Linked DNA regions of Homo sapiens: region 2 is linked to region 1. A link means that fine-mapping ties the variant in region 1 to the expression of a gene that starts in the linked region. Tissue or cell type: whole blood. Region 1 holds a variant in brackets; the other region holds the start of a gene. All regions are shown on one strand. Distances are between the middles of the regions.

Region 1 (5,219 bases):
ATGCAGACAGGGAGCAGGATGAGAAGAGGAGCAGGCCTGGCTGACTCCAAAGCTGCGCTCTCCCCATCACTCCATGGTCCTCTAAAGTGAGCCCAGGAACAAAGTGAATGGAAGCCAAAAAAGTGCCAACTCTTGACATCTTGGTTGCTCAGCAAATGAACTAGCATGATCTTGTCAGTTCTAAACATGGTTTATAAGCAACATTCTCAATTCACTAAGAGAGTAAGAAAAGCCATAAGATCCAATACTTACTTTGTGAAAATAAATGGAATGAGGTGACCTACATGCATTGCTTCAGAAGAGGGGCCCCGGCCCGTGTACAGATAAAATGGCTTCTTATTTTCATAGGCATCAAGAACCTGATTCATATCTCTAAAGGAAAAAGGAGAAGAGGAAGAGTGTGATTTTCTGAGAAAAATATCAAGGCACTAATGCACTTTTGGAAATGGAAAATATAGACAGAGACGAAACAACATGGATAATAACTAGAATTTGTTACCTTTGGTGCTTATGATATAAATATAGACAGGAAACTTCTACTGAAATGGTTTCTCCTGTGAGTGTTTTAAAAGACAAGATGTGTAGGTTTGGAATAATGTGTTTAAAAGATGGATCCAGCTATGCAGTTACTGGGACTCCTGGAATCCCTCCAAACATCAGTGCCGACATACTGTGAGCTTGGTACACTTCCCTGGGGATACCAGGCCAACACCATATGATCCTTGCTCAGAATCACCCAGCCCCGAGGACTCTCAGACCAATACCAGGCAAACTGCATGGGACCAGACAGTCCTGGCTTAGCAGGGAAAGTAAGAATTGTCCTCTGGGAGTTCAGAGGTCAAGTGCCCAGTTGGAGATCTATCTGGGCCCCTCAGCCAGCTTGGGACTAGGTATCTTCATCTGCAAGTCACTCAAGAGTCATCCCCCTCCCTACCAGGCTGCTTCCAATCACAGCTGCCTGCGCCCCACCTCCAGAGACTGATTCAATGGATCTGAGGTGCTCTCTGGGAATGTGTTTGTTTGTTTGTTTATTTATTTATTTTTGAGACAGAGTCTCACTCTGTCACCCAGGCTGGAGTGCAGTGGTGTGATCTCTGCTCACTGCAACCTCTGCCTCCTGGGTTCAAGCGATTCTCCTGCCTCAGCCTCCCGAGTAGCTGGGCATAGTAGGCACCTGCCACTATGCCCAGCTAATTTTTTGTGTTTTTAATAGAGACGGGGTTTCACCATGTTGGCCAGGCTGGTCTCAAACTCCTGACCTCGTGATTTGCCTGCCTCGGCCTCCCAAAGTGCTGGGATTACAGGTGTGAGCCACTGCGCCTGGCCGGGAATTTGTATTTTTAAAAAGCTCCGTGAGGAGTTCCAATGTTCAGCAGGGTGGGAAACCAACGCTCGAGGATGAATGTCCTTTGTTTCTGGGTAAAGTGTCCCCAAATACAAGAGGAATAACTACCTTTTCCAGAGGTCTGGATAGGAGAATCTAGAGAACAGTATTCTGAAAGTGACTTCTCCTTATATTCCCCAAGCCAAGGGTCAACATTGCTTATCTCTGGACAGATACAATTGTGGGTGTTCTGGTTTTTGGGCTTAGTTTTCATTTTTTTTCCCCATGAAATGCTCACATACTGCTTTTGAAATAAGGAAAGAAAATAACCCATAATTTTGGAAGGAAAGAATCCTTCTTTGGTTCTCACAACTAACCATATGGGCTTACAGAAGAGAAAAAAATGTAACTGTGCCACGAGCTGCTTTTCTTGTGTTTATGTGGAGCATCTGAGAACTCACTGTGTGCTCGGTCCTGGGGTGAGGTGCTCCTGACAAGCGTGCAGAAATTTACTGGGTTCCAATTTTGAGATCATGTTTTATGAGGATGGATTCCAGCAGAGACTCATTCAGCTACTAAGGGAACCCAGTTACCTGCCCACCACTTGAAGCTTGACTGTGCATAGTAGATCTCATTTAATCCCCAATTTTACAGATGACAAAATTAGACAGAGGGGCAGTTTGAAATTTGAGAATGGGCAAATGACTCAGGTCCTATGCTTTCCTAAGCCAAGAGGCTACAGTATTACTATACTGCAGTTAATAAATAAGTCACAAAGGCAGTGAGAAGAACCATGCCATGCTAAGATAAAAAATGCTGACTACAAACCAACAAAATTAGTAAACTTTGAACCAAAGTGACTG[GGT/G]GTGTGTGTGTGTGTGGGGGGGGGTGTGGAATAAAAGAGAAGACTCAAACGGCCAAAATCAGGAATATAAGAAGGGGTATTACTACTGACCTTATAGGAATAAAAAGGATTACTACATAAGGGAATACTATGAATAACTGTATACCAATACATTAGATAACCTTGATGAAATAGACAAATTCCTAGAAACAAACTACTGAAACGAACCCAAGAAGAAATAGAAAATATACACAGATCTGGAACAAACAAAAAGACTGAATTAGTAATCAAAAAACTTCCTACAAAGAAAAGCCCAAAACCCCATTTTCACTGGTAAAGTCTATCAAATGTTCAAAAAAGAATTAATACCAATCCTTCCCAAGCTTTTCCAAAAAAAATTGAATAAGAAATACTTCCCAACTCATTCTATGAGGCCAGTATTACCCTGATACCAAACCAAAGACATTAAAAGAAAACTACAGACCAATATCCCTTATGAACACAGATGTAAAAATCCTCAGCAACTCACAAACCAAATCCAGCAACATATAAAAAAGATTATACACTATGATTGAAAATAAATTGATTTTCAACACCATGATTAAGTGGAATTTGTTCCAGGAACGCAAGGTTGATTAAACACGCAAAAACCTATCAGTGTGATACACCATACTAATAAAATAGAGGCCAAAACCCACATGATCATCTCAATAAACACAGAAAATGCATTTGATAAAATCTAACATCTTTTCATAATAAAAACACATGTTGAAGGGTATATAGAAAGCCCACAGCTAACATTATACTAAATGGTGTATATTCAGTCTTTACTGAAAGTTTTTCCCCTAAGATCAGGAATAAGACAAGGATGCTCACTTTCACCACTACTATTCAACATCCTATTGAAAGTTGAAGTCAGAGAAATTAGGAACGAAAAAAAAATCCAAATTGGAAAGGAGGAAGTAAAACTGTCTCTAATCATAGGAGATACAATCCTATATGTAGGAAATCCTATCGAATCTGCAAAAAGAAAAAAAGCATTAGCGCTAATAAACTCAGCAAAATTTCAGGATATAAGATTAATACACAAACATCAATTGTATTTTTTTTTTTTTTGAGAGGGAGTTTTGCTCTTTTTGCCCGGGCTGGAGTGCAATGGCACGATCTCGGGTCACTGCCACCTCTGCCTCCTGGGTTCAAGTGATTCTCCTGCCTTAGCCTCTTGGGTAGCTGGGATTACAGGCGCCCACCACCATGCCTGCCCAATTTTGTATTTTTAGTAGAGATGTGGTTTCACCATGTTGGTCAGGCTGGTCTCGAACTCCTGACCTCAAGTGATCCACCCGCCTCGGCCTCCCAAAGTGTTGGGATTACAGGTGTAAGCCACCGTGCCCGGCCATCAGTTGTATTTCTATATAGTAGCAATGAACAATCAAAATGAGATTAAGAAAATGCCATTTAGAATAGCATTAAAAAGATAAAATTCTAATGAATAAATCTAAGCAAAGAAGTGCAAAACCTATACACTGAAAATTACAAAACATCAATGAAAGAAATCAAAGAAGTGAAAAGACATCCCATGTTCATGGATTAGATGAATTAATATTTTAAGATGGCAATACTCCACAAATGAATCTACAGATTCAGTGCAATCCCTATCAAAATCCTAGCTGCTGCTTTTGCAGAAATGGAAAAGCTGAAATTCATATGGAAATGCAAGGGGCCCAGAATACCTAAACAATCTTGAAAAAGAACCATGTTTGAGTACTCACATTTTCTTATTTTTTTTTGAGACGGAGTCTCACTGCCACCCAGGCTGGAGTGCAGTGGCGCGATCTCGGCTCACTGCAAGCTCCGCCTCCCGGGTTCATGCCATTCTCCTGCCTCAGCCTCCCGAGTAGCTGGGACTACAGGCGCCCATCACCACACCTGGCTAATTTTTTGTATTTTTAGTAGAGATGGGGTTTCACCGTGTTAGCCAGGATGGTCTCAATCTCCTGACCTCGTGATCCGCCTGCCTTGGCCTCCCAAAGTGCTGGGATTACAGACATGAGCCACTGCGCCCAGCCAAGAATAGTCTTTTCAAAAAACAGTGCTGGGACAATTGGATACCCACAAGCAAAAGAATGAAGTTGGAGCTGTACCTCACAAATATACAAAAATTAACTCAAAAAGGATCAGAAACTGAAATGTAAGAGCTAAAACCACAAAACTCTGAGAAGAAACCATAGGTGTAAATCTTCACAACCTTCGATTAGTCAGTGGTTTCTCAGATATGACACCAAAAACACAATCAATCAAAGATAAAATAAACTGGACTTCATCAAAATTAAAAACTTTCATACTTCAAAGGACTATCAGTAGAGTGAAGAGACAACCTATATAATGGGAGCAAATATTTGCAAGTAATATTTGAATAAGAAACTAGTATCCAGAATATAGAAAGAACTATTATAACTAACAATAAAAAGACAACCCAATTAAAAAGTAGGCAAAGGATCTGAATAGACATTTCTCTAAAGATATAAAAATTGTTAATAAGCACATGAAAAGATTCTCAACATCCTTGTCATTAGGGAAATACAATCAAAACCACAATGAAATACTACTTCACACCTATTAGGATGGCTATAAAACACAACAACATGGAAAATAACAAGAGTGGGTGAAGATGTGGAGAAATGGGAAGCTTCCTATGTTGCTGGTGGGAAAGTAAAATGATACAGTTGCTGTAGAAAAGTCTGTCAGTTCCTCAAAGAGTTAAACATGGAATTACTATATAAGCCATTAATTCTATTTCGAGGTATATGCCCAAGAGAATTGAAAACATATATCCACCCAAAAACTTGTATACAAATGGTCAGAGCAGCATTGTTGATAACCAAAAAGTGAAAATAACTCAAACGTCCATCAACTAATGAATGAATAAACAAAATGTGAGGTATATCCATTCAATGGAATATTATTTGGCAATAAAAAGGAATCCAGTATGGATACATGCTACAACATGGAGGAACCTTGAAAATGTTATGCCAAGTAAAAGAAGCCAGA
Region 2 (5,219 bases), 50 kb before region 1:
GCTGGTAGCAGAGGTAGTGGAAGAGGCACCCTTCCCTCTTGGGGTTACCTCTCCTCCCGGGTTCTCCCACCCCTAGCTGAGCTTTTCTCTCTGCGCCTGCTTCTGTCCATCCAGAGCCCAGTGTCTATGTGGCCTCAAGATTTGGGTTGATCCCCCAGTAGGGGAGAGGGGGAGGCATTCCAAACCTTCCACCATGCAAGGCCTCAAGGATGCTGTCAGTCAAGATGCTGGCCCCGCCTCCCTGAGAAGTTAAAACACGTGACCCACACTAGGCGAATAGTAGGGGGTGGACAGTCCCCCTCCCCAGCCACCAAGGAGAAGCACTGGCATTATCTGCCCTGAGCCTGTAGGTTGGGGGCACCCCAAGAAGGAGCCAGGCAGGGGCTGCTGGGGTACGGGTCCCAAGGTGGGGTGCCTCTGGGCAGGCTGTCAGTGTGACCCCAGCTGTGCCAGGGACCTGGAGCCTGGGACACAGTCAGTTCACTGTCCTGAGGGGCCACCCCAGCACCCTGGAGTAAGGGGGAGAGGAGAGGACTGCAGGCTCACCCTGGCCATCAGAGGAGCATGTGGTGTGACTTTGCTTTAGTACCCCCACCTCTCTGGGCCTAGGTTTCTCCGATGAGACCAGGAGTGAGCCCCCAGGTGACTTCTGTCCTTGTCCACCTGGGAGGCTCAGGCTTACGCTTGTAGAGCCTTAGCTGGGTGGCCATTATGTGCCTGGGGGTTGCACGAAAAGCAGGGCCTGGGGGCAGGGGGGTGGCCTGTGCCCCAGTGCTACAGCACCAGACAGTGCCAGTCCTTGACCCACAAACCTGGGGCAGGGGGCATGGATATGATCTCTCCCAGGTGGGCCTATGAGGATGGGCAGCGAAGGACATTCCAGGCAAGGAGGCTGCGCGAGCGACGTGCAGAGGAGACCACAGATGTGCCGGGAGGCGCCAAGCAGGCCTGCTTTCAGGTGAAGTGTTCCTGCCCCAAACCCCGGTGTTTCCAGGAGGGCAGCACGGACGGTAGCGCCACTGCAGAAGGAACTCTGCCCATCCGGGGAAAGAATCCCCACTCCCCAAAGCCTGGAAGGAGGTGTTGGCCTGGGGACAGCCCTTCACCCCCACCCGCTGGAGCTGATAGTGGGTGGGGAGCAAGGGTGGAGCAAACAGCGAGATCAGAAGCGGGAGGGGAAGGTGAGAATGGAATCCGCAGAGGACACGCCCCCTCTGTCTCCAGGGCACCCAGCGATTAGCAGCAAATTCTGGGCTTTGTGCCCCGCAGCTTCCCACTGGGTAACCGACCGGGAAGTTCTAACTCCCCTCAGCGCACAACACCTCCCCAACACACTCCCTTTTCAACGAGTCTCTCCCCCAAGAAGCAGGCTCCGACGCCACAGATTTAATACTTAAGGCCACCGCTACCCACTCTTCCGCCAGGGCTCTCAGCGCTGGCCGGGAGCTGAGGGTTTATTCGAGCCAAATCCAAGTAGATGAAGAGGCGGTGAACAAGGGCAGGTGCTGGGAGAAAAGTGGGACCAAACAGGGATAAGCGGCCGGCCCTCTCAGCAACTCCCGCCGCCAACCACCCTCCCCCGCCCCCGACATCTAAATCCTGGTGAATAAATTAACCCTCAAGGTAAAAGCAGAGAAGCCAGAGGCCCAACAGGGAAGTGCCGTGCCCGACGCCCACGGTCGGGGCATGGGAGAGCCTGGACTGCACGCCCGCCCGGGCCCTCCCGGGGACAACTGCATGGGAGGAACCCCAGAGCCGCGACCGCGCCTCGGAGAAGGTGCCCCACACCGGCTCGCCCGACCCACCCACCACCCCCCTTCCGCCCCCAACAGCTCACAAAACCGCGTAGGAAGGGGCGGCGTTCCAAGGCGTGACTCGGCGCCAGAGTGGTTCAGTGCCCTCCAAGGCCAGCCGAGTAGGGGGTCGGCTCCGTAGCCCCAACCCCGCTGGATGGCTGCGCGGGACGGGGTGGAGTCAGTCCCGAAATATACGGCCGGGGGAGGGGACCCTGCTCCCAGTGCGCAACGGATGGGGATGGGGGAGGGGAAGGAGATGAGCCCGGGACCTCGGCGCGGGGGGCAGTGGGGCATCCTCCCGGCAGTCCTGGCCTCCGCTCAGCCACGGTGCTGCCCCGGCGCCCCAGACCTCCCGTCCGAGCGTGCCCAGAGAGAATAAAGACACCTGCCCTCGCGGACAGCCCGGGCCTGAAGTCAATTTACGCCCACGAGACCCGCCCGAGGCAAGAGAACTGTGGTCCCCATTCACAGACGCGGCGACCCCCGCCAGCGGGAAGCCGCGAGGCCAGGGCGTGCTGGTGGGCCGACCTCCCTCCCCGGACGCCTCGCCCCGGCCCGGCCCGGCCCGCCGCCTCCTTACCCCCCGCGCATCCAGCCAAGAAGTCCAGCGCCATGGCCGGGTCCCCGGCGAGGCCGCCTTTCCTCCTCGTCCTCCCCCTGAGGCCCCTCGCCGGGCTGGGCGCCGTCGGGGTCCCCGAGCGCGCGGTGCCGGGGCTGGGCCTGGCCGCTCCTCCTGGCGCGGAGCCCGGGCAGGCGCGGTCAGGGATGGTGGGGATGGCGGCAGCAGCTAGACCCGCGCTGGTCCCTCGGCGGCAGCTGACTCGCTGGATCCCCTCCGGCCCGCGGTCCCTCACCTCGGGCCGCGCGCCCCGCCCCTCGTGCCTGCCGGCAGGGCCCGGGTGGGGGCGCCGAGTGAGGCCAATGGGCGGGCACGGCGCGGACAACACCCCGGGCACTGCGCTTCGCCGCCGCGCCTCATTGGCCGGGCGTGCGCGGGAGGCGGGGCGCGGGGGACGTGGTGGGCGCGCGGGCGGGGCGCGGGGACGCCTCAGACAAAGAGCGCGCTGGGTGCGCAGGTCCGGCGGGAGGGGACGCGCGGGGTGGCGGGGTTGAGCCGAGGACTCCCCCACCCGGAGTACGCGGGGTGGCTCTGGTCTGGACCGGGTCGGGAACCGGACCCTGGGTTCGGAGTCCGGCGCCGCCGCAGAACCTCAGCGCCCTAGTCTGTGCCGTGCGGACCCTGCCGCGAAAACGGCCGTGGAGCGCCGGGACGTTCCGAGGCCCGCAGACTGGGACGCCGCTAGTTGCGAAACTCCGCGAGCGGGAATCGCCCGTGGGGAGCCTCTGCCCGTCCCGCCTGCGCGCCCGCGGCGGCGGTGGCCTCCGGGGCTTCCGGACTCCTGGCCGAACCCGCCGGGTTCTGGGGGTCGGACGCGCACGGGCGCTTCCTGCGGAGCCTGAGGCTGGGATTTGGGCGGAGAGCAGGGAACCTTAAAAGGGAAAGGGGCCATGGGCAAAGGGCGCAGCAGGCCTTCGGGCCACAGCTCCTTCCCGAGGACTGCGGGTCGCGGGAGCCGCGGAAGGTTGTGGAGAGAGGGAGGTTCCTGGACTGGGCTGCAGAGTGGAGTCGGGCCAGATCGCAGCGCCTCCGTCAGCGGCGGCCGGACGGGGCGAGACCGGAGGGGCTCGGTAGGGGCCGCGCTCAGGCGCTGAAGTCGGAGGGTGCTTGGCTCTGGGTCACCAGGGTATCCATGGGCTGCGGGGATGAATGAGAGCCGAGTCTGACTCGGCCCCCCAGGAGTCCCTGACATTCGCAGTGGCAAGGGACTGCCCTGGTCCCTGTGGAGCGTCCCATTCGGTGACTTCCCACCAGCCCTTCCCCAGCGCCTCTGGAGGTCCAGACTGTCAGGTTGGAGCCTGGGAGCAGGGACGGGCCAGGCGCTTTCTCTTCGCTGTAGGAGTCAGATCAGCCTTAGGCCGGGCCCAGCTTCCTTCTTTAGGGCCTGCAGGCAGGCAAGGCCACACCGTGTGCCACGTTTCCAGGTTTAGGGTCACATGGTTCTTTTATCCAAATTCCAGTGGGTACCTACCTCCTGGAGGTGCAGGTCGAAAGGTTCTGTGTATTTGGTACTAGGACACACAGGTAGGTGTTGTCAGTAGTGCAGCCTGGTGCTAGGGGCAGGGGTCCCCAGTGCTCATGTTAGTTTCCTTTTAGAGTCTAAGTAGAATGTTAAGCAGAGACCCAAACCCTAGGTCTGCTGACTCCTAGTCCAGGGCTCGTGATGGCTGGTGGGCCCTGAACGAGGGGTCTGGAGGCCTGGGTTTGAATATCGACAGCCTCTCTGACCCACTTGGTTGCCTCAGGGAGGCAGGTGTGCGGATGGGGGAGAGTGGCCCATGGGCCAGAAAAGCAGTGGTATGGGGGCCCCAAGAGAAGCCCAGACCCAAAAGGGCAGGAGCTGGCTGTGGGGCTACTCAGGTGGCTGGAGGCCTCCTGCAGACACAGTGATTACACTGGACTACCTACATGTAGTCACTTACCTTAGGAACAGGATGTCCTTGGGATGCTGGAGGGCTCATGAGGTAAAGCACAAATCCCTGCACATCCATTCCTGGTTGAGGAGGTTTGGGAGGGAAATCCAGTACCTTGACAGCATGTGGCAGTAGTGAGAAAATGATGGAAACGGATAAGGAGACAAGCATGACCTGTTTTGCTTTGTTATTGAGAGAATGCACATGCCTTGAAAATTATGCTTGGGGCAGGTTGCACTGAGCTGTCAGTCCCTGGGGTCCTTGGGAAGGGGCCTAGTAGCCTGGTAAACAGTAGGTATTCCATAGTTGAGCTTCAGAAACCTCCTTGAGGCTGGGTTCAGTGGCTCATGCCTGTAATCCAGGCACTTTGGGAGGCTGAGGCAGGAGGATCGCTTGAAGCCAGGAGTTTGAGGCCAGCCTGGGCAACATAGTGAGGCCCCATCTCTAAAAAAAAAAAAAATCGGCAGGATGTGGTGGCGCATGCCTGCAGGCCTGTAGTCCTAGCTACTCAGGAGGCCGAGGCAGGAGGGTCGCTTGAGCCCAGGAGGTCAAGGCTGCAGTGAGCTATGATCGAACCATTGTGCACCAGCCTGGATGACAGAGCAAGACCCTATTTCAAAAAGAAAAACCTCCTTGCAGGGAGGGTCCTTTGTTGAGAGAGCTGAGGCAGGCCGTGTGAGGGCAGCAGTGGGATCGTGCCAGGCCTGGGAGATGAGGAGTGCGGGCCCTTAGCTGTGCACTTTGCAAGGAGAGGGCAGGGTTCTGGGTGTGTGTGTGTGGTCGGGGGAGGGCTGTTGGATTTGGGGACTAAGGTCAACATGTGGGGGACAGTGGAGGACTGGGCTCTGGGACAGATTTGCCTGACCTGACCCGCCAAGGGAGCCTCAGCTC

Evidence for each region. PIP is the estimated chance that this variant, and not a neighbour inherited with it, causes the effect.
Region 2: SLC25A29 starts here. The variant in region 1 is fine-mapped to the expression of SLC25A29 in whole blood (INTERVAL, PIP 0.93).

What each region holds. Positions count from the first base shown.
Region 1 is chr14:100,354,195-100,359,413 of GRCh38, forward strand. It overlaps WARS1 (tryptophanyl-tRNA synthetase 1), which reads right to left. Exons shown (of 11, transcript NM_004184.4): 5 at 253-372. Among named protein-coding and RNA genes, the nearest start is that of WARS1, 19 kb to the right of the region's middle. The variant GGT/G (reference allele first, on the strand shown) is at 2,188.
Region 2 is chr14:100,303,823-100,309,041 of GRCh38, forward strand. SLC25A29 (solute carrier family 25 member 29) reads right to left here and starts at 2,622. Exons shown (of 4, transcript NM_001039355.3): 1 at 2,377-2,622. The coding sequence starts at 2,410. MIR345 (microRNA 345) reads left to right here and starts at 4,037; the gene lies at 4,037-4,134. RefSeq lists enhancers at 1,116-1,195, 1,246-1,305, 1,558-2,124, 3,333-3,402, 3,433-3,602 and silencers at 2,453-2,552, 2,613-3,082, 3,173-3,242.